Homo sapiens: one gene and its partners. The protein of the gene in region 3 purifies or fractionates together with the protein of the main gene of each other region. This does not show direct contact. Each region holds a gene or a part of one and is shown on either strand. Other genes may lie near its edges.

What was found. Proteins that work in one complex are often made in the same cells at the same time.
Region 1: the proteins of PHLPP1 (region 3) and WDR20 purify together in Homo sapiens (affinity purification with mass spectrometry; 4 studies listed by BioGRID and IntAct, with this or other methods). This does not show direct contact.
Region 2: the proteins of PHLPP1 (region 3) and FKBP5 purify together in Homo sapiens (affinity purification with mass spectrometry; 4 studies listed by BioGRID and IntAct, with this or other methods). This does not show direct contact.

Annotation. Positions count from the first base shown.
Region 1 is NC_000014.9:102,135,000-102,142,896, reverse strand, and holds the start of WDR20 (WD repeat-containing protein 20), read right to left. Parts: upstream 3,001-7,897; 5' UTR 2,974-3,000; coding exon 2,725-2,973; coding exon of another isoform or gene 2,689-2,724; intron 1-2,688. Other genes in the region: HSP90AA1 (heat shock protein HSP 90-alpha), read left to right, coding at 3,493-3,647. UniProt on the Homo sapiens protein: Regulator of deubiquitinating complexes. Activates deubiquitinating activity of complexes containing USP12. Anchors at the base of the ubiquitin-contacting loop of USP12 and remotely modulates the catalytic center of the enzyme.
Region 2 is NC_000006.12:35,685,916-35,693,054, forward strand, and holds the start of FKBP5 (peptidyl-prolyl cis-trans isomerase FKBP5), read right to left. Parts: upstream 3,001-7,139; 5' UTR 2,889-3,000; exon of another isoform or gene 2,817-2,888; intron 1-2,816. UniProt on the Homo sapiens protein: Immunophilin protein with PPIase and co-chaperone activities. Component of unligated steroid receptors heterocomplexes through interaction with heat-shock protein 90 (HSP90).
Region 3 is NC_000018.10:62,711,485-62,718,592, reverse strand, and holds the start of PHLPP1 (PH domain leucine-rich repeat-containing protein phosphatase 1), read right to left. Parts: upstream 3,053-7,108; 5' UTR 2,910-3,052; coding exon 1,334-2,909; intron 1-1,333. UniProt on the Homo sapiens protein: Protein phosphatase involved in regulation of Akt and PKC signaling.

The DNA of each region.
Region 1 (7,897 bases), on a different chromosome or scaffold from region 3:
TCATTTTACACACAGACTTAAGTTGAATTTACTCATCTAAATTAGATCTTCTGAATAATCCAAATAATTATTGTAAAATTTTACACGCCTCAAAGGACCAAAAAAAAAAAAAAAAAAAAAAAGTCAAAACAGCCAACTGTGCGCTGGGCATGGTGGGTCACACCTATAATCTCAGCACTTTAGCAGGCTGAGGTGGGAGGATCGCTTGAGGCCAGGAGTTCAAGACCAGCCTGGGCAACACGGCAAGACCTCCATCTCTAAAAAACATTTTTTTTTTTAATTAGCCAGGGTGGTGCACACCTGTAGTTCCAGCCACTAGGAAGGCTGAAGTGGGAAGATCATTTGAGCCCAGGAGTTTGAGGCTGTAGTGAACGATGAGCACGCCACCGCACTCCAGCCTAGGCAACAGGATGAGATCCTGTCTCTAAAAACAAAAACAAAAACATGTTTAATAGCCAACTGTCAAAAATATGTTTGTAACTACTAACTCTAAAAAGTAAATTTTGGTTTTCCAATTAAGGAAAATGTATTTCCTATATTTTAAATCAGAAAATAGTCATAAAAAGTCACTTATACTCAGAAATAACAACAAATAAATGCCAACTCATTCATGGAAAAAAATGTTTAAGTTACAATTAAAAGAGAGTAGAAACATCTGCAACACAATGCAAATGTATCTACAAGATACTACCACATGAAAATGAAATTTTACCCAAAAAGCGTTAAAACACTCAAATTATGCAGGTAAGGGCAATTTACGTATTTCACATTTATCTTGTTTAAAATAATTTTTTGGTGTGGTTTTAAAAACCTTGCCTCCTTTTACCCTTCAGGGAATAGCGTCCCACTAAAAGAGAACACTATTGTAATGATACTTCCAGGCAAGAAACCTGTCTTTATGATGTAAAACAGGGCTACCAGATCCAGATAAGGTCTGCCATTAGGATGCTTCAGAAGTCATAACATTTCAAAGAAAAAAAAATTTTTAAGTAATTCCTACATTAATAATTGCTAGTTAGTGAATTTAGTTTTTAAGCACATCGTATTTTTATATAAATATAAATTTTTATAACTTAAAATTCTAAACTTAATTTCCTGAGACAAAATTGGTCCTTTCACTCTGATTATCAATGTCAAGACAGCAGCTTCTTATTTGACAGTCAGTATTTAACTATATTTTACATCTACTGAGTGTTTCAGGGCCTTAAAGTTCATTATGATTATTATATTATTAATTACAACGTGCACTGTAACATTCCCTTTTTAAAGAGGTGCAAATAGAAGTTAAATAACTTATCCAAGGTCACCCAAACAAGTCAGTGACAAAGTTGGGAGTAGGAGTAAAACTTCAGCCCCTAGACTGAAGACTACTTCGAGCTTTTGCAATTCCAAACGAGGAAAAAAAAAAGGTCAAGCGATTTACCCTTAATAACTTCCAACAGCATACCCTAAATACAGTGGTACACTTATTATCATAAAGACTAAGAAAAAAAGATTCACCCTGAATCAAAGAAACAACTTTGCTACATTTAGATACCACTGTCATTTCCCTAGCTCTTGTAACAAGCGAAAATCCTGTACTGGATCTGGCTATATTAAATCCTGAAGAATGTTCACTCTTCAATATGAACAATTTATTTTCATGCTAACATGCATTTACGACTTAATCTTTTATCACCTTGTCCTATTTGGAGGTGCTGTGGGATGCATTAATTTCCTCACTCTTCCATGACATCAAGTCAAAGACTACAATCTCAAAAATAAGCAATTCTCAGTGAAAACATAGTTACATAGCCAATGAAAGAAAAACTCTAATAAATGGCTGCTTTTAAAGAGATACTTTTAAAGGATGCTTACATGTTTCACAGAATTACCGGTAACTCGCCCGCCAAGAAGGATGGTCCCTTTAAAGCAGCTTTTAAAGCATATCACTCCCTGTTTGGGACACAGTCTGACTTGTTGGACAAGATTAATCTGGGCACTCTCACACAACCCCTCTGAACCAGCTTAGTTCACTGGAAACATCATTTCAACTGTAGTACTCAGCCCTTCGCATACTACAAGGGACAAGATGACTCTCCTTAACAATCTTTCAGAAGGTCCCCACGGCGGAGACAGTGACAGCCGTCCTCCCGCGGATGTTTTTGGAAATAGAAATGTTAACACCAGGAGAGGCTCCTAGGAAGTGTCAGTGCGGCAGCAGGTGGAGTAGCCCTGCGTGCCGAGCAGGTTCTTTCTGACCTAGTCTCAATGCTCCGCTTCCCGGCCCCGGTTCCGCCTTACAGAGATCTTGTTAAGCCGTCTTGCGTCCCTGTTCTCTAACCCAGGGCGAGACTTCCAACCCTCCAGGGAGGCGAGGCAATCGAAGCAGACAAGACGGCCACCTCACCTCTTCCGGGGACTCGCAGGCCCGCTCCCTGGCCATGTCAGAGCCTGATGGACCAGGCTGGAGGGGACGCAGCCGGCTCCCCCGGGAGCCTCCCAGCCAGAACCCCCGCGCCCCACGGTCCCTTTCCACTGCCCCCACCCCTTCGAAACGCCACCGCCACCACCCTCCTTACTCCTGAATCCCCTCTCCTCAGGAGTACCCCAGTGGAGTTACCGGCCCACTCAAAAGTAAGAGCGACGGCCACCCCTCTCGGTCACCCTGGCCCCACTGTCACCGCCCTGCTCCCGGCCTCTGCCTACGCCGCTGGCTGGCTCCGGTGACGCCCGGGTCGGTACCTTGCGGACCCCCTTGTAGATATAGAAGTACAGCTCCCGGCCCACATTGAAGCAGAGGCGGTCGCCGTTGCCAGACTGGTCGTTGAGGTTTACGAAGGAGACGCGGACAGGGTTGGATCCCTGCGAGTTGAAGGGCACCCGGTTGGGCCGGCTGTACTCCGAGTGCGGCAGCAGCTTGTACAGACCTTCCCGGGTGGTGAATTGGGTCTTAATCTCGTTCATCTCCTTCCCTCCTCCCTCCGTCGCCATCTTGGAAAGCAGCGTTCATCCTGCCCTAAGTGCCCGGATCACGCCCACCGCGCAGGCGCTGTTCCTGGTGCTCCCTCTTCCCCCACCCCCTGCCTCTTCCTTCTCGCCCCTCCCACCCGCGGGCCAGCCCTGCGAGGGCGGGCCAAAGGGAAGGGGTGGGCTTGTTTACGGCCCGACTGCGCAGGCGTGCTCACCTGGCGTGCTCCACCCGACTGGGCGTCCGCAGGCTCCTCCCCCGGGTGTGGCCTCCGGGCGGCATGGCTGCTTCCCAGGTGATGCCGGCTTCAGCTAGTGGGGTCTAGTTGACCGTTCCGCAGCCGCCAGGGCCAGCGGAAAGCCGGTCAGGGGGAACCGCGGCGGGGCTGGTGTCATGAGCCTGAGGTGAACTTGAGGGTGCCTCCTCAGCGGTCTCCCGCCCTGCCCTGAGGGGCGCCGGGACCCCAAAGAGCGGAGGAAGAGCGCCACCCCGACGGCCACCGCTTCGGAGCCAGCACGCGGGGTACCCTACGGGGAGCGCGGATGCCCCCGTGTTCGGGCGGGGACGGCTCCACCCCTCCTGGGCCCTCCCTTCGGGACAGGGACTGTCCCGCCCAGAGTGCTGAATACCCGCGCGACCGTCTGGATCCCCGCCCAGGAAGCCCCTCTGAAGCCTCCTCGCCGCCGTTTCTGAGAAGGTACCAAGGGACTCAAGATTTACGCTTCACTATGTTTTATTTCAGGCGGGGTAGGGGGAGAGAAGAATGTGGTACAGCATAGGTGTTCTCAAGCCAGATATCCTAATTCCTGCGTGTGATGAGCACTGGCGGCCTCCGCTTCTTAGCGGAGGTTTGTCCTCTCCAGCTGTTCAGAAACACGGGGCGGGGAAGCGCTTTGGGAACCGGGGACTGAATCTTTTTAGGATTCACTGATCTTGCTCAGTAGGTTACGAAGAGCTCTTAATAAAATTTAAGGTAATTGTTTTTTTTTCCAGAAGCCTCAGGTGGAGTCTGTGAGATTATTTACTAGTAGATCCATAGGGATAGTTGTATGCATGTAATGTACAGGGTCTAGATTTATAAGGACGGGCACACGTGTCAAAGTAAGATTCAACAATCACTATTTTATACCTGGGTTTCTTGGCATGTTACACCAGAATAAGAAAGCTTCTAAAGTGACAGAAACATTCTAATAGAATTCCAGGGAGGGGGGAAGCCAACATTTGTAACACCAAGAATGATCTATTCCTGGAAGTTCAGATTATATCTGGAGGGGCACAAAAGAAGTGAATGGAGAGAATTTCTAAAGTAGGAGGAGTGTAAATCATAAACATCTTCCGTATTAAAAAGCAAGTAGATACCAATAGAAACTGTGCCAATGATGTAGTAATACATTTGATAATAACATCTTTAGCCTTTGTAGTGTTGGAAAAAAAAAAGAAAAAAAAGCACTGAAGTACTTCTTAATTAATAGAGCCTGAAAAATACTTAAAATTTTTTCTTAGAATTGTTTTGATGTTATCCGACTTTCCCTAATCTTAAAACACCAGGGTATGTTCTGTCGTTACCATGGCTATATCCCAAACTCCATAACTGTGTTATTTTACATTGAAAACACGTATTTTACAATAATCAACTTGAAGGATAGTGGCATCTTGAATCATCTAAAAATAATTTATCTGTGTTTCCTAATTATCAAGAGGAAAAAAAGTATAATTTTTGGGGGGGGAAAAAAACCCAGCGAGCAAAAGTTAAAACAAAATTTTGTATTATTCTTCAATTAACCATAACATTGTATTTCCCATAATACCTATATAATTCAAGCATTCTATCAAGATTTTACCCTATATAAATTCAACATTTTATTATAATCACAGTAATAAACTGTTCACTTTGTCTCATGCATAGCCTTTGGTTTAGTTTTGTTTTTTTTTTCTTAGATGGAGTCTCGCTGTCGCCATGCTGGAGTGCAGTGGTGCAATCTTGGCTCACTGCAACCTCTGCCTCCCAGGTTCAAGCGATTCTCCTGCTTCAGCCTCCCGAGTAGCTGGGACTACAGATGTGCACCACCACGCCCAGCTAATTTTTGTATTTTTAGTAGAGATGGGGTTTCACCATGTTGGCCAGGATGGTCTTGATCTCTTGACCTGCTGATCCACCCACCTTGGCCTCCCAAAGTGCTGGTATTACAGGCATGAGCCACAGTGCCCAGTCCCATGCATAGCCTTTGAATAGTCTCTATTTTTATTCTTTTTATCTCATAACTTTTCCTCCATATTCAAAGATTCAATAAGCAACACCCAAATCTAAATAACTAGGCCTGAATGGCTGGGCGTGTTGGCTCACACCTGTAATCCCATCACTTTGGGAGGCCGAGGCGGGCAGATCACGAGGTCAGGAGTTTGAGACCGCCTGGCCAACATGGTGAAATCCCATCTCTACTAAAAGTACAAAAATTAGCCAGGCGTGGTGACACATGCCTGTAATCCCAGCTGCTCGGGAGGCTGAGGCAAGAGAATTGCTTGAACCCGGGAGGTGGAGGTTGCAATGAGCCGAGATGGCACCACTGCACTCCAGCCTGGGCAACAGAGCGAGACTCCATCTCAGGAAATAAATAAATAAATAGATAAATAAATAAATGGGCCTGACCTAATTTTATTTCTGATTTTCAATTTCAAACCGGGAATTTAAAAAAAAATTTTTTTTTTGAGATGGAGTCTCACTCTGTTGCCCAGGCTGGAGTGCAGTGGCACAGTCTCAGCTCTCCGCAGGCTGGAGTGCAGTGGCACAGTCTCAGCTCTCCGCCTCCCAAGTTCAAGCAATTCTCCTGCCCCAGTCTCCCGAATAGCTGGGATTACAGGCGCATGCCACCACACCCAGCTAATTTTTGTATTTTTAGTAGAGACGGGGTTTCACCACGTTGGCCAGGCTGGTCTCGAACTCCTGACCTCAGGTGATCCACCCACCTCAGCTTCCCAGAGTGCTAGGATTACAGGCGTGAGCCACCGCGCCCGGCCTCAAACCAGGTATTTCTTTTTTTTTTGTTTCCTTTTTTTTTTTTAAGAGAAGTCTCGCTCTTGTCCCCCAGGCTTGAGTGCAATGGCTCAATCTCGACTCACTGCAACCTCTGCCTCCCGGATTCAAACGATTCTCCTGCCTCTGCCTCCCAAATAGCTGGGATTAAGGCACCTGCCACCACACCTGGCTAATTTTTGTATTTTTTAGTAGAGACAGATTTTAACCATGTTGGCCAGGCTGGTCTTGAACTCCTGACCTCAGGTGATCCACCAGCCTCGGCCTCCGGAAGTGCTGGGATTATAGGCGTGAGCCACCGCGCCCGGCCCAAACCGGGTATTTCTTTTTTTTTTTTTTTTTTTTTTTGAGACGAGTCTCACTCTGTCGCCCAGGCTGGAGTGCAGTGGCATGATCTCGGCTCACCGTAACCTCTGCCTCCCGGGTTCAAGCGAGTCTTCTGCCTCAGCCTCCCGAGTAGCTGGGACTACAGGCATGTGCCACCAGGCCTGGCCAATTTTTTTGTATTTTTAGCAGAGACGGGGTTTCGCCATGTTGGTCAGGCTGGTCTCGAACTCCTGACCTCGTGATCCGCCCACCTTGCCCTCCCAAAATGCTGGGATTACAAGCGTGAGCCACCGCGCCCGGCCCAAACCGGGTATTTCTAAATAAATTCATCAGTTTCTAAACCTTATGAATTATTTTTTCATTTCAAACTTGAATCATTATGATGGTTTTGTGCATTAATTCCTTCTAAACAACTACCAAAATAATTTTCTAAAAACAGTGCTTTAGACATTACATATTCTTTTGTCCAAAAACTTTCAATTATTTGAAATACCCACACAATTTAAGTCATACTGAGAGGTTACAACGTGCTGGCAGTCCTCAGAGCCCTGGCTTGCTCTCGGCGCCTCCCCTGCCTGGGCTCCCACTTTGGTGGCATTTGAGGAGCCCTTCAGCCCCCCACTGCACTGTGGGAGCCCCTTTCTGGGCTGGCCAAGGCTGGAGCCCACTCCCTCAGCTTGCAGGGAGGTGTGCAGGGAGAGGCGAGAGCGGGAACCGGGGCTGCGTGCGGCTCTTGCGGGCCAGCTGGAGTTCCGGGTGGGCGTGGGCTTGGCGGGCCCCGCACTTGGAGTAGCCAGCCAGCCCTGCTGGCCCCGGGCAATGAGGGACTTAGCACCCGGGCCAGTGGCTGCGGAGGTGTACTGGGTCCCCCAGCAGTGCCGGCCCACCGGCGCTGTGCTCGATTTCTCGCCGGGCCTTAGCTGCCTTCCCGCGGGGCAGGGCTCCGGGACCTGCAGCCCCCATGCCTGAGCCTCCCACCCACTCCATTGGTTCCTGTGCGGCCGGAGCCTCCCCGACGAGCACCACCTCCTGCTCCACGGCGCCCAGTCCCATCGACCACCCAAGGGCTGAGGAATGCGAGCGCACGGCGCAGGACTGGCAGGCAGCTCCACCTGCAGCCCCGGTGCGGGATCCACTAGGTGAAGGCAGCTGGGCTCACACCAATCAGCACCCTGTGTTTAGCTCAAGGTTTGTGAGTGCACCAATCCACACTCTGTATCTAGCTACTCTGGTGGGGCCTTGGAGAACCTTTATGTCTAGCTCAGGGATTGTAAATACACCAGTCGGCACTCTGTATCTAGCTCAAGGTTTGTAAACACACCAATCAGCACCCTGTGTTTAGCTCAAGGTTTGTGAGTGCACCAATCCACACTCTGTATCTAGCTGCTCTGGTGGGGCCTTGGAGAACTTTTATGTCTAGCTCAGGGATTGTAAATACACCAATCGGCACTCTGTATCTAGCTCAAGGTTTGTAAACACACCAATCAGCACCCTGTGTTTAGCTCAAGGTTTGTGAATGCACCAGTCGACACTCTGTATCTAGCTGCTCTGGTGGGGCCTTGGAGAACCTGTGTGGAAACTCTGTATCT
Region 2 (7,139 bases), on a different chromosome or scaffold from region 3:
AGGTTGCAATGAGCCGAGACTGCGCCCTTGCACTCCAGCCTGGGCAACAAGAGCAAAACGCCATCTCAAAAAAAAAAAAAAAAAAAAAAGCAAAACTAATGTCTATAATAGTGGCATTTGATCTAGCCTCAAAATTAGTTGTTTTAATGTAAGCCCTTGTTTTCTGTAGCTTCATTTATTTAAAAATACTTACTATCACCTCCAAACTCAAAAGGAGTTATACCTGAGGGTAAATGGCTTTAAAAACACTCCCAATGTTTATTGTGTGGATTTGAGAATTCAACTTATGCTTAATTTTTGAAACTGAAATTGTAGTTGATAATTTTATGATATCATCTATTACAAGTTAAAGTAGAGAAAAATCAGTAATTAAAATATCTAAAAACTAAATTTTAAAATGGGCTTTTAATTAAACCTAAAGTTAATAAAACTTTAACTTTTATAGTTAAAATACTAAAATACACATATGTAAATAAATTTATGAAATGCAACTTTATTGTATGTGGTTTATATACATACATCATCACAGAATAAGGACAATAAACAACTAATTATTAATAGTATTTTATATATTTAAGTACACTAAAGAGCAATTATATAAATGATAAAAAATAATGGAAGCTACAGTCTTATCCAGTTCCTTTCAACTATTTACATAGAATAAGCCCTCCGAACGTGAGGATGAATTATTGTTCAACCTATCCACACTAAACATCAAAAAGCCAACTTAGCTTTTAACAGCAGTAACTTCTTCTACAGGTATACAAACAGGATGTTCTTTCCTCTCCAGACTAATTCATCCTAAGCAGAGAAGCCTTTAGGAAACTAAACTGAACCCAAAATATGCATTATTTTCCAAGAATAAACAGATAACTAAAGATTTAATAAGTTGCCTAATGCAATATTTTAAGTTTTTCATTTGAACTGATTAAAAATATGTTTTAAAAAAGAAATTCACCCAAAATTCCCATAACTAAAAGAATTAAAGACTCAGAAACATACAAAGACCTCATAGCTTGTTATGGAGAAATAAAACAATAAAGACCACTATATTCTTTTTAATCTAAAATAGTCACAATTATTGGTTGAAGAGTTGATGGTTCAATGGCGAACTCTTATCAGCTATTAGCTAACTGTAATTACCTAGGCAAATAAGTAAAATGACCATTCAATGAATAATAAACTAGCATAATTAAATCAAGATTAGCAACTTTGTTCTTAACTTAAACTTAATCTCCGAAGTATAAATCTTACCTAATACAGATATCAACCAAGACACATTAGAAGAAAAAAACTGGGTAACTAAATAAAGTGTTTCTCACAAATAATGAGTATTAATAACCCTCGTTTTAAAAATGTCATTTGTATAGAATCTCTAAATTGGTCAGGGCCATAATTGCAGACTGTCAGGCAGAGGTCAGCTGGGGGAGAGACAAACAGAAAATGGTGAAGTGAAAGTATGACAATAAAAATTTCCCACCAGAATAAGAATTTTTTTCAAGTCGATTCTTGGCTTTTGATTCAAACACCAAGAGAAGCAGCTCCCTTTAGAGAATTACTTTATAATTCTCTAAAGTAAAAACCCTTATGGAGGAGGTGGATAGAATCCCAGACTATTAAAAATACTTAACCAAAATATGCTTTAACTTTTCCCTTGTCCACAATCTAACAAAATGGGAAGACAATGAAAATAAACACTCCTGTCTACACTCAGAGAGGCAAAGAAAGCTCCCATTCAGTAGTAAGCCTTATTCCACTGGAAAACATACTCCTGAAAAGTAAATCCAAAACCACGAGCTCAAACTGCTTCATGCAGAATTTACTGAACGGCGGCCAAACGCTGAACACACTGTCCTGAACCACACTGAAGGGTATCTACAATTCTGCATCTCCGCTTACAACTTGAAACTTACTACGCTTTCGCCACCACTGCAGAACCCGATTTTAGAGACTACGATGGTCCTGCCGGTTCGTTAATCGAAGAAAGCCACTCTGCACCCTGACGCTCGTAGTGTCTTTTTGGTAATACTGGTTTTTGACTCTTATACTGTGACCGGTGCACCTTTTTGGACGACCAATAAGGCGGAAGACGTTTTCACGTCCCAGAACAGAAGAGCATAAGGAGCCCTGGCACAGCGTTCAGCCGCTTCGGTATGGCCTGGGAGTGACGCGGATCACCTGTTAGACGGCGCTGCGCGGACTCCTCCACAAGCGGCCGACAGCGGCGATGCGGTTCCCCAACGCTTGTCCCGAGGCGGCAGGTGAAGGCGGGGACCGCCCGTCCACACCCGGAGCGCGGCCACCCCGCCACCATCCCCTTCACAGCCCCGCCAGGTGGGCGAATCCGCCCCGCGCCCGCGGCGTCCCGGCGCTCGGCTCGCCCTGGGGTCCGGTTGTCCCGGCGCCCGGACCCGAAAGCGAAGTTTGGCTCCCGCCCGCAGCGGTGCCGGCTGAGGGTCCGGCCGCCTGTCCGGGGAGAGCCGGGGGCCAGAGACCGGAGGCGGAGCGGGACCTGTCATCCCGGGCGGGAAACAAAAGCCCAGTGAGGACGGGCGGGCGCGACCCGCCTCGCCTCTGCCGGGAGAGGCCGGCGGGGGCGGAGAGCGGCGCCCGCGGTCACTAGTCTCCGCGCCTCCCGCGGGGAGCACCGGCCCCGCGGCCCCTGGGGCGCGGCGAGGGGCGCCGCAGTGGGGCCGAGGCCTCCCGCGCGCTCCCCTCGAGGCTTCCGGACCCCGCTCCCCCGCGACACGCGGCTCCTGGGCTGCGAAGCCGCGTGGGGGTGGGAGCTGAGGCAGCGAGTGCGACCGCGGCGGGACCTGGAAGGAGGGCGTTCGGCTCCCGGGGCGCCGCGGCCGGCCGCCCCATCTCCGTGGCCATGGCGCCGGTACCTGTCGCCGCGGGGGCTCGCCGACTCCGTCACTCTCCGCCTTGCCCGTGCTCCGCTAACCCTTCAGCCCGCCCAGCAGGCCGCCCGCGCGCCGGACACCGCCGCCCGAGACTGGCAGCGCCCGCGAGCCGGCCCGAATCCCCGGGGCAGCGCCCGGCGCCGTCCCGCCCCAGCCGGCCGCAGGACCCGCCTTCCATAGGGCCCCGGGGCTGTCAGTCCGCCCCCAAAAGGCGCGCGGGCTGTCGATCCGCCTGTCCGGATTGGTGGCCGCGCGCCGTCCATGCAAATGAGGCCCCGCCCCCATCATTTGCTCCTCCACCTCCCCACGCCAGCCCACGTGTCTGGCCCTTGCCCTTTGTGGGGGCCATAGAGAAGGGATGGTGGAAACTGACACCCCCTCACATCTCTTACCTCCCGAGAAATTAATGCCTAAGCAAGCTAGTTGACTTCCCATCTGTATCGTCTCTCTGAAGGCACTGCCCCTCCTATCTGTCCACAGGGCCTACCTAGAGGCCGGAGAGGGGCAGGCCAGGCTGTTTGTTAGGTCAGCTGGCCAGGTTAGCCCTAGGAAGCAACCCCATTAAGTCTAAGATGCCCAGTCGGGACTGGGGAAATCCCACCTCGAGAACCAATTTAGCAGATATCACCTCCCTCTGGACACCCAGTGACTGTAAAGACCATACTTTCTCTTGGCTTGCTACCTTTCAAGCAGGAGATCCCAGGAGATTAAAACAGGAAGAGGCCTTACGGCTGAGTTCGGCCAGGTGGGGTGGCTCACGCCTGTAATCCCAGCACTTTGGAAGGCCGAGGTGGGCGGACCACGAGGTCAAGAGATCGAGACCATCCTAGCCAACATGGTGAAACCCCGTCTCTACTAAAAATACAAAAATTAGCTGGGCTTGGTGGCGCGCGCCGTCCCAGCTACTCGGGAGGCTGAGGTAGGAGAATCGCTTGAACCTGGGAGGCAGAGGTTGTAGTGAGTCGAGATCACGCCACTGCACTCCAGCCTGGTGACAGAGCAAGACTCCATCTCAAAACAAAAACAAAAACAAAACGGCTGAGTTCTTCCGCCAACTCCGAAAGGTAGACTGCCAACCAGATGGCTACCTCTGAGTTACTCCCATAGAGATGCAGGAGCTGCACCTGGGCCTTAGGGAATCTCTAATCAACTCTCTCATTTTTAAGGAAACAGAAACCTGATGTCCCATAGCTAGTTACACGTGGGACCTAATAGTTACCTATGGAAACCTAATATCCCATAGCCAGATTAGAACTCATGTCTCCTGGCTCCAAACCTGCTCTCTTTGCACTATACTGCATTCAAACATTTATGAAGAGCCTCGTCCAGAAATCGCCATGCTGCCTTCAAGAGATGATGCCTGGGCGCCGGGCGCGGTGGCTTACGCCTGTAATCCCAGCACTTTGGGAGGCCGAGATGGGCGGATCACCTGAGGTCGGGAGTTCGAGACGAGCCTGACCAACATGGAGAAACCCCGTCTCTACTAAAAATAATTTTAAAAAATTAGCCGGGCATGGTGGCGCATGCCTGTAATCCCAGCTATTCAGGAGGCTGAGGCAGGAGAATTGCTTGAACAGAGGTTGCAGTGAGCCGAGATCGCACCATTGCACTCCAGCCTGGGCAACAAGAGCGAGACTCCATTCTAAAAAAAAAAAAAGGGTGATGATGTCTGCAGAAAAGACAAATAAAGCCAAGACTGAAACCGCCTCGAGGGCAGGGGTTCTGTCTCAGTCATTTGTCTGTCCTCAGTGCCTAGAAGCTTCCCTGTTTACCAGTTGCCGAGGGGAGTCACTGAAACAATGTATTTGTTCATTAACGCAGAAAAACAAAGTTGATCAAAATTCCTCTGCATACTAATACCAATTGATTAAGCATCTACTATGCTTAATAATAGCACATATTAGGCAGGGCACAGTGGTTCACACCTGTAATCCTAGCACTTTGGAAGACAGAGGTGGGCGGATCACCTGAGGTCGGGAGTTCGAGACCAGCCTGACCAACATGGAGAAACCCCATCTTTACTAAAAATACGAAATTAGCCAGGCATGGTGACGCATGCCTGTAATCCCAGCTACTCGGGAGGCTGAGGCAGAAGAATCGCTTGAACCCGGGAGGCGGAGGTTGCAGTGAGCCGAGATGGCACCATTGCACTCCAGCCTGGGCAACAAGAGCAAAACTCCATCTCAAAAAAAATAATAATAAATAAATAAAATAAAATAAAATAAAAATAACAGCACATATTAAGCTCTATGCTATCAGGGTATATATGTCCCAACCCTCAAGGGCTTCATTAGGAGACAGTGACATACACGTAACATGTCAGTTCTCCTCTTCATGTTACAGGGGTTGTGACAGATGTCTGCATAGGGCACAATGGAAGGCGCCAAGGAAAGAGGAATCAGCTCTTCCTACGAGAGGCAGGGAAGGCGTCATTGAAGAGGTCACCTGACAGTAGAGCTGAATCTTAGAAGATGAAGTAGGTGTTTGCCAGACAGAGGGGTGTGGACAAGGGGGAAAGGGACTCCCAGGCAGGAGGGGACAGCGTGAGCAAAAAGCATGCAGACCTGGAAAAGCCTAATAATTGAGGGAACAGTGAGGAGCAGTGTGGGCAAATCTGCAGAGGGCTGTGTGGACGTGTCACATGTCTGGGACCAGGCTCTTCCAGGAGGAAGACAGAAAGGCAGGGGAGGCTGCCAGGCTGTGTTGTAATACACCGCAGCAACAACAACAGGCCCTGTAGATACAGCTACACGGTTCTTTTTTTTTCTAGGCCAGAGTCTGTGGAGAACAGTCAGTTCCACAGTTCCGATGGCAGCCTTGCTAGCCCCACCCACTCTCCCAGAAAACCACTCTGATCACTGCACTTGCCTTCCTTGGCATTTGGAAACACATGTGCTTGCATTTTCCCTAAACATTACTGCCCTTCAGAATTCAAAGATGACATGCGCTATGGCTGCAGATACCTGGATGTGGGATGAGCAGCCCTTTCCTAAGGCACAGTACGGTTCTTTGCAGGGTCTGTACCTAAGACCAGTTCCATGGGTATGTGACCTGTGTAGTACACAGGGCCGTGTACTTAGAAGAGCCCTGTGCTGGGTCTAATGCTCTGCTGCCGCCGTCTTGAAATTCTTAGTACTTTCTCAACAAAGGGCCCTGCACTCTCATTTTTCACTGGGCCCTGCAAATTATATGGCCAGTCCTGCCTGTCACTGGTAGTGACCCTGGGCATGCTTGTGGAACTGCTCAAACCACATCTCATTTTAAAAGCACTTCGCATTCACTAGACTCATTCACATGCATTTTATCATTTGATTCTCTTTTTCTGTCTTCCTTTTTCTTTTAGAGACAAGGGCTCACTCTATTACCCAGGCTGGCCTGGAACCGCTGGGCTCAAGAGACCCTCCCACCTTGGCCTCCTAAACTGTCAAGATTGCAGGTGTGAGCCACCTTGCCCGAACTTATCATTTGATTCTCACAATGGGGTAGGCCAGTGTTACTCTTTATTTTCATTTATTACTTGAAAAAATTGAAGTTTGGCAACTTTCTCCAGGTGGCACAGCTAGGAAGTAGCAGAGCTTGTACTTGAACTCAGCCCAGGCAAGCCCTGTTCCAACTACTACCGAGCTACCTTCATCTTGGTTTCAGAATCCTTTTAAAGGCAGCTTTGTACATTAAGGTTTTTGAGAGTCAGAGTATGCCAGGCGTGGTGGTTCATGCCTATAATCCCAGCACTTTGGGAGGCTGAGGTGGGCGGATCACCTGAGGTCAGGAGTTCGAGACCAGCCTGGCCAACATGGTGAAACCCTGTCTCTACTAAAAATACAAAAATTAGCTGGGCGTGCGCCTGTAGTCCCTGCTACTTGGGAGGCTGAGGCATGAGAATTGCCTGAACCCAGACGGTGGAAGTTGCAGTGAGCCAAGATTGCACCACTGCACTCCAGCCTGGGTGACAGAGTGAGACTCTGTCTCAAAAAAAAAAAAAAAAAAGAAGAGAATACACGGTAGAGTGGATATCTGTCATTTCACGGCTGCCTATCACCTTTGAATAGTTTTTCCTCAGTTTTGAACAATTCTCAGACATTATATGTTCAAATACGATTTCTGTCCTTTTTCTTCTTTCTTTCTGGGGCTCCAGTTGAAACACATTCAACCTTCTTACTTCATCCCTTTATTCTGTATTTTCTGTCTTTTATCCTTCTATGCTTTGTCCTAATAAGTTTCTTCTATTTTCAG
Region 3 (7,108 bases):
CAAATGCTACTGTATTACGATTTGGTTTTCTTTACAAGTAAAAGATTCATCAGAAATCCACTTAAATTTCAGAAAAACTTCCAAGAAATTTAAAGGGCATCTCTCTCACCAGGAATCCTGTCAGTCTTGCATATTTCAATGTGGGAGTAAAGATGTAAAGATTTCTTCATGCAAACTAATTAAATTGCCACTGGGACACACAAGCTGGACCAAAAGACATTAAATTGTAAAGAATGGCTACAAATTAATGGAGTTACAAGTATGATTATTTTCCACCATCACCTACAACCTAAAAACGTAAAGTTAGCGAAGAGTTAACACTCTTGATTTAATTTTGCTATGAGAACTTTATTTTAAATAAAATTCCTTATCACTGAGAACATAATTATTCAAACCAGAGGAGGAAAGGGATGTAAAACTACTTAGAAAACTCAAGTACAATATCCAGCATCTATAGCTCCTGAATTTAGTACTAGCCAAATCTTCAGCCAAAAGAGAAACATTACATGGGTCACCCCTAGTCAAGAATTTGCTAATGTACTGAAACAAGACGGGGGAAGATTTCAGGACACATCTGAAGAAATAGCAACCACTTAAATCCTTCTTGTGAACCTTCCTGCAAGGCGTATTGCGGTGGTCAGTTCTGACCATAAAGGCTGGAAGAAAATGAGAGAAACAGGCAAAATCTTTTTTTTTATGCAAGACAAACTTGCAGACGAAACAGAAATCGAGCAAAAAAAGCGCTGGGGAAAAGTATCAGTTAAAAAGGCACCCTTTTGTCAGATTTCTAATGAGGGCTCCGTGGGTAATTTATGAGTGTGGCAGAGCTGAATAAACAAAGGCACCAGTTGACAAGTCAGGAGCTCCCGGTGGCACATACAGCTAGAACGCTCAACTGGACAGTCAAATGCAGGCAAAAGTGTGATAGAGCATTTTTATTGTCATTTCTTCTGTCCGTCTTATGCTCACGTGACAGTTTACCTGAAATCCCAAACTGCCTGAAACCCAACATGCCCCTGAGGAAGCACCTTTATGGTTAAAGGTGCTCTTGCCGCTTTCAGAGGGATCTGCTTCCTGTACTTCCTGGTGATTCAGCCACCTCTTTCACATTGCTTTCCAACCTCTGAGCCCTCAAGATTGATAAAACGTGCAGATTTAAAGATTGCTCAATCTAGTACTACACAGACTGTATGAAAAAGCTGTAAAGTTTAAGACAAAGACTCATCAGGACCCGCACTTACTCTTGGGTTGGGCAAACTGACAAGCAATTTGAATCACTCCTCGGTCCTCGGCAGCTTTTGCAACCACCCGTCAAGGCAGGTGACTTCCTTACCTGCATAGAAGCGGATGAGGCAGCCAATCTCCGAGTCCATGCCTTCCTCCTGCACCCTCCACAGCTCCCCAAATCCCAGTTGGAAGAGGTAGTCATTTTGGATCTGCAATGGCTTCTCCTCCGCCTCCAAGCGCCGGGTGGTCTCTCCGTGGAGCTGCACGTACAGGGTGGGCGGCGGGGGCGGCGGAGGCGCCTTCTCCGCGGTCACCCCGCTCCTCCCGGGGGTAGACTGGAGGCCTCCCGGGGCCACGGCTGCCGCTGCCTTCTCCTCGCACGACCCCTCGCGGACGGCCCCGCCCGGGCTGTCAATGGCCCTCGGGGCTTTCTGCTGCGGCTGAGGCGAGGAAGCCGTCTGGGGAAGCGGGAGGGGCTGCGCGGGGTGGCCGGGACGGCGGGGCTGGCCCGGGACCCCCGTCGGGGCCGAGGCTGCGTCGGCCTCGAGCTCTTCCGACGACGACGAGGAGCCGCCGCCGCTGCTGTAGGGGTCCAACCGGTCAGACACGCTCTCGGCGCTGGGACTCAGACTGAAGCTCTCGGTGTCGGAGACCACAGGCCGTGGGGCGCGGGGCGAAGAGACAGGGCCCCCAACGAACGGCTCGCCGGGGCTGGAGTCCGAGGGCGCTGGGCTGGCGCGGCGCGACCACCCGCCCGGGCCGCCGACGGGCAGGGGTAGGTCGGCGGGGGGCGCGCGCGGAGGCCCCCCGAAGGCACCCGGCGCGCTCCTCGCGGGCGGTACCTCCGAGTCCCGCGGCTCCGGGGGCGCCAGCCGGGGGCCGGCCTCGGGGGGCGGTTCAGCGGGCTCCCGGGCGGCGGCGGCTCCGGGCCCCTGGCCCAGCACCTTCACCACGCCGCCGCCTTTGTGGCCCAGCTGCAGCAGGCGGGCGGCCACCTCGCCGGCCGTGGTGTCCAGTGTGCAGAGCACCGGGCGCAGGTAGGTCGAGGCCATGTGGCGGTCGAAGACGTGCACGCAGCCGCGCTGGAGCTGGTGCCTCACCCAGTCCCGGTCCGACGGCTGCAGCTGCAGCGTCTGCCGGTGCTTCAGAAGCAGCGTCTTCCTGTCCAGGCTCCGGGTGCACAGCGACGCCGAGGCCGAGCAGGAGGCGGGGAGGCCGGCAGCGCCGGGGGAGTGCGAGGCAGCAGCGGCCGAGGACGACGACGACGAGGAGGCGGCCGCGGCGGCCGCGGACAGATTCCTCTTCAGCCGCCCTCTCCTCAGCAGGAGGGAGTTGGCGCCGCCGCCGGCCCCGGGTACGGGGGCAGCCCCGCCGGCAATGGGCTGGGGCGCCCCGCGCCGCCTCCTGCGCCCGGCACCCCCCGCTCTGCCCGGCAGCGGCCCCGGCGGCGCCTCGCCTGGGGCCTCTTCCCGCGCCCCGCTGCCGCTGCCGTTCCCGCCGCTCGGGGCCGCCGGGGTCAGCGCGGGCTCCGGACTCCGGCCGCCCCCGGCCGCCGCCGCCAGAGCCGCCGCGGCCGCCGCTGCTGCTGCTGCTGCCGCAGCGGCGGCCGCCGGAGCCGAAGCTCGGTCCTCCCTGCCGAGCTCGGGGAGTCGCTGTACCGTGGCCGCGGCGGCGGGCTCCATTGCAGTGGGGCTTCGCGTTTCCCCCCCAGCTCCGGAGGCAGCGGGCGGAGAGGGAGGCGATGAGGCGGAGGTGGGAGACGGCGGCGGCGCGCGGAGAAGGGAGAAGCCAATGGCGTTGTGCGCGGCCGTTCCAGGGGATTATGTGGCGATTCGGAGCATTCCGTCGGTGTCTCAGTGTTCCATCCCGCGCGCCCGCCTCGCCGCCACCGCCCCCCCGACACACGCCCTCCCCGCCCGGGTCGCGGGCTCCCCAGCGCCGGCCCCGCCCGCTACCCCCGCCTCAACCCGGCGAACCAGCCGCGGATCTGGGCTCATTGAATATTAATCATGCGCCGGGAGCGGGAAGGCGGGAGGCTGGCAGGGCGGGAGGGCCGCGTGTGCCTCATAAATATTCATCGCCGGCATGACGGCATTCCAGGGAGGAGTGGGGAGAGCCAGGGGATGGCCGGAGGCGGAGCTTCAGGGTAAACAAACGTGACGCGTGCGTACGAGGGCGGGGTGGGGGGCAGTTTCCCGGGAGGTTCCTGAGCCGGCCTCGGAGAGGGCAGTGAAGACCGACGCGCGCGGTAAACCTTGGGAGTTGTGGTTCTCGTAAGGGGATCGGCAATCCCGAGGGAAACATGGTGGACTACAAGTCCCAGCGGTCCTTTGGTTCTGCTTCTCCTGGCCGCCAGCAGCTGGCCGTGGCCAGTGAGTATTGTGCCCTCTGCCGTTGAACTCTGTGCCAGAGTTCTTAATGAACACGAATGCTCATGTTCATTAACTTGTATTTTACCCGCACTCCAGCTTGCCAGATGACTTTTATTTTCCCTACTAATTAAAGGTGAGGGCTTTCAGGGACTGTAAACGTACGAAGGTCGCAGGTCCTGGTCCTCACCTGCGCCCATTGTATGAGATAGAGATACACACCCGTCACACCACAGCATCACTGGCAGTCTGAGTGGGCCAACCTCACTTTTTCCCCACTTTTTCAAGACCCAGGAAGACAGGCAGCGTCTGGGAATTCTAACTGAGGCTGTCGTTGAATGTGCTTGTTCGAAGGCACAACCCTAAGTCTGTCCTCTCCCTCTCCTGTACCTGAAAAGGAAAATAGCAAAGGACTGAGGTTTCATTGTTTCCCATTGCTCTTGAAGTCTGAAGTAGTTTAATGACACAGAAAGCACTGGTAAGTAGAAGAAACATTAGAATGGAGTATGAGATGGGCTTTTTCCACGTGTTCTGTCTTAACGTCTTCTCTGGTTTTTTTCTTTCATCATTCAGGGAAAAAAAAAATAGTTTCTACTGCCACAATGTTTAGTCGTGGTCTGAAAAGTTGTATTTTTCGTCAGTTGAATCAATGTTGTAATCATTGGGCAGTTTACTATTTAAAAGAATGTTGTACACCTTTTTAATTGAATTACCATTCCCCCAATTGCTTTGTAATTCGGGATTTTTCTTTTCTTTTTTTCTTTCTTTTTTCTTTTTTTCTTTTTTTTTTTTTTTTTTTTGGCCACAGAGTGGGTCTGTCGTCCAGGCTGGAGTGCGGTAGCGCGATCTGGGCTCACTGCAACCTCCGCCTCTCGGGCCCAGGTGATTTTCCCACCTCATCCTCCGAGTAGCTGGGACTACAGGGCTTGCCACCAAGCCCGGCTCATTTTTTGTATTGTTTTAGTGGGGGTGGGAAGTCCCTTCATGCTGCCCCGGCAGGTCTCAAGCGATCTGCCCGCCTCAGCCTCCCAAAGTGCCGAGATTACAGTCGTGAGCCACCGCGCCAGGCCCTAAATCCGGATTTTCACATGTGAAACTTTTAAACAGTTTTAAACCACATACTATCTATGACCTGTTTTAACCTCAATAAAGTGACTAAACTTGCAGATGAAGAGTGAAGGGGGTTGGAGAGAGAGACCAACTGGAACTTACCGCTTAGGTTATCACAGTTTCATTGAACAAGAATGAAGAAGCTGTGGAGATAAAAATAAATATTTCTCAATGATTTTTTACATTCCTGATGATTTTCTGTATTTTCATTTAAAGTTTCACCCCTTAGCCTCATGAATCTATTAATAATATGTATTTTATTTAAATTCAATCAACAGCAACATATGAAAAATTAGGGAGATTGCAAGTTCTCCCAAGAGTGATAACATTTTCAAGTCAATTAATTTAACAGATAATTACAAACATTTATTATGTACCAGTCACCGTGTTATAGCAGTTGAATAAATCACACACTGTCCCTGCCTTCATAGAGTTTACAGGTTAGAAAGAATAACATTCAAAAAATGCAGCAGAAGTACAGAAGGGGAAAATACAAGGTGCCACAGAAATAGACATAAAACAAGAGGAACTAACCTAGTCTAAGAAGTCAGGCAATACAGACCAAAGTTTGAATGAAATTTTTTGGAGTCAGTGAAAATGTGCATTTGTTGAAGGATCAGTCTCTGAAAGAAAGGGAAGAACCAAAGAGGTAATTATATTGAGATAAATTTCAACTACACTGATCTGTGTTGTGCCTTCAGTAGCCCCGACACAAACTATTTGTTCTAGAAATTGAAAGAATAGTCCTTTAATTTAGGCATCCTTTAATAAAATTTAAAAAACAAGGCACATGTTAAATTTCAGTACTAAAACATGGAATTTGTATACCTCTTTATATTCCTTAGTTGATTTCCTACAAACCCCTTTATATTTATTTATTTATTTTATTTTTATTTTTTCTTTTTTTTTTTAGACGGAGTTTCCCTCTGTCACCCAGGCTGGAGTGCAGTGGCGCCATCTCGGCTCAATGCAACCTCCACCTCCCAGGTTCAAGCGATTCTCCTGCCTCAACCGCCCAAGTAGCTGGGATTACAGGCACACACCACCACGTCCGGCTAATTTTTGTATTTTTAGTAGAGACAGGGTTTTGCCATGTTGGCCAGGCTGGTCTCAAACTCCTGACTTCAGGTGATCCATATGCCTCGGCCTCCCAAAGTGCTGGGATTACAAACGAGAGCCACCACGGCCGGCATGTTTGTTTATTTATTTATTTATTTATTTTTTGAGATGGAGTTTCACTCTTGTTGCCCAGGCTGGAGTGCAATGGTGCCATCTCAGCTCAATGCAACCTCTGCCTCCGGGGTTCAAGCGATTCTCCTGCCTCAGCCTCCTGAGTAGCTGGGACTACTGGCGCATACCACCACGCCCAGCTACTTTTTAAATTTTTTTGTAAAGATGGGGTTTCACCATATTGCCCCGGCTGGTCTCAAACTTCTGACCTGAAGTGATCCACCTGCCTCGGCCTCCCAAAGGGCTGGGATTACAGGCGTGAGCCACCACACCTAACCCAGAATGTTTCTTCTAATCATAAATTCTATCGCCATTGCTCCTTCTCTAAGAAATTACAATACCGCATTGAATCCACCCATGGTTCCTATTATTTAACATTACACAATCACCGCAACTCTGCCTTTTTTATTCTCTAGCAATTTTGTTTACTCTTTGAAGGTATTTATAACTAAAACACCTTTTTCAAGGGGAAAAAAATTTGTACCAAAAACATTGCTCAGGTTGGGCGCAGTGGCTTACGCCTGTAATCCCAGCATTTTGGGAGGCCAAGGCGGGCGGATCACCTCAGGCCAGGAGTTGGAGACCAGCCTGGCCAACATGGCGAAACCCCGCCTCCACTGAAAATACAAAAAATTAGCCGGGCGTGGTGGCGGGTGCCTGTAATTTCAGCCACTCAGGAGGCGGAGGACTCAGTGAGCCGCGATTGCGCCATTGCACTCCTCCAGCCTGAGCAACAAGAGAGAAATTCTGTCTCAAAAAAAAAATAAAGACATTGCTCAGAGGATTTAGTATCCAAATAATGGGGAAATGGGGACTGGAGAGCCATCATACACTCCTGGCAGATAGGGGCTTGGTACTGGGATACCTAATACTAAGTGGTGTCGGGAGGAGGCAGGAAATGAACAGGATGAATATTGTTACAGTACCTCAGCATAACGAAGAAGGAAATACATTCCTACCTCATAAAAACAGTGTTTGGAGGGGTGGGGACCTAAAATACAATTTTCCTGGATTTCATGCATAGAGTCCATCATCTGAAGATGACATATTCCATTGTATGCAGAATAATGTAAATCAGAGCTAAGGGGAGAGCAAAAGGGCCGGGGTCCACTGTGTAATCCTTCCCTTGTTCTGACCCAAGCCCCCAGTGATGTTACTAAGCTTGGGGTAAG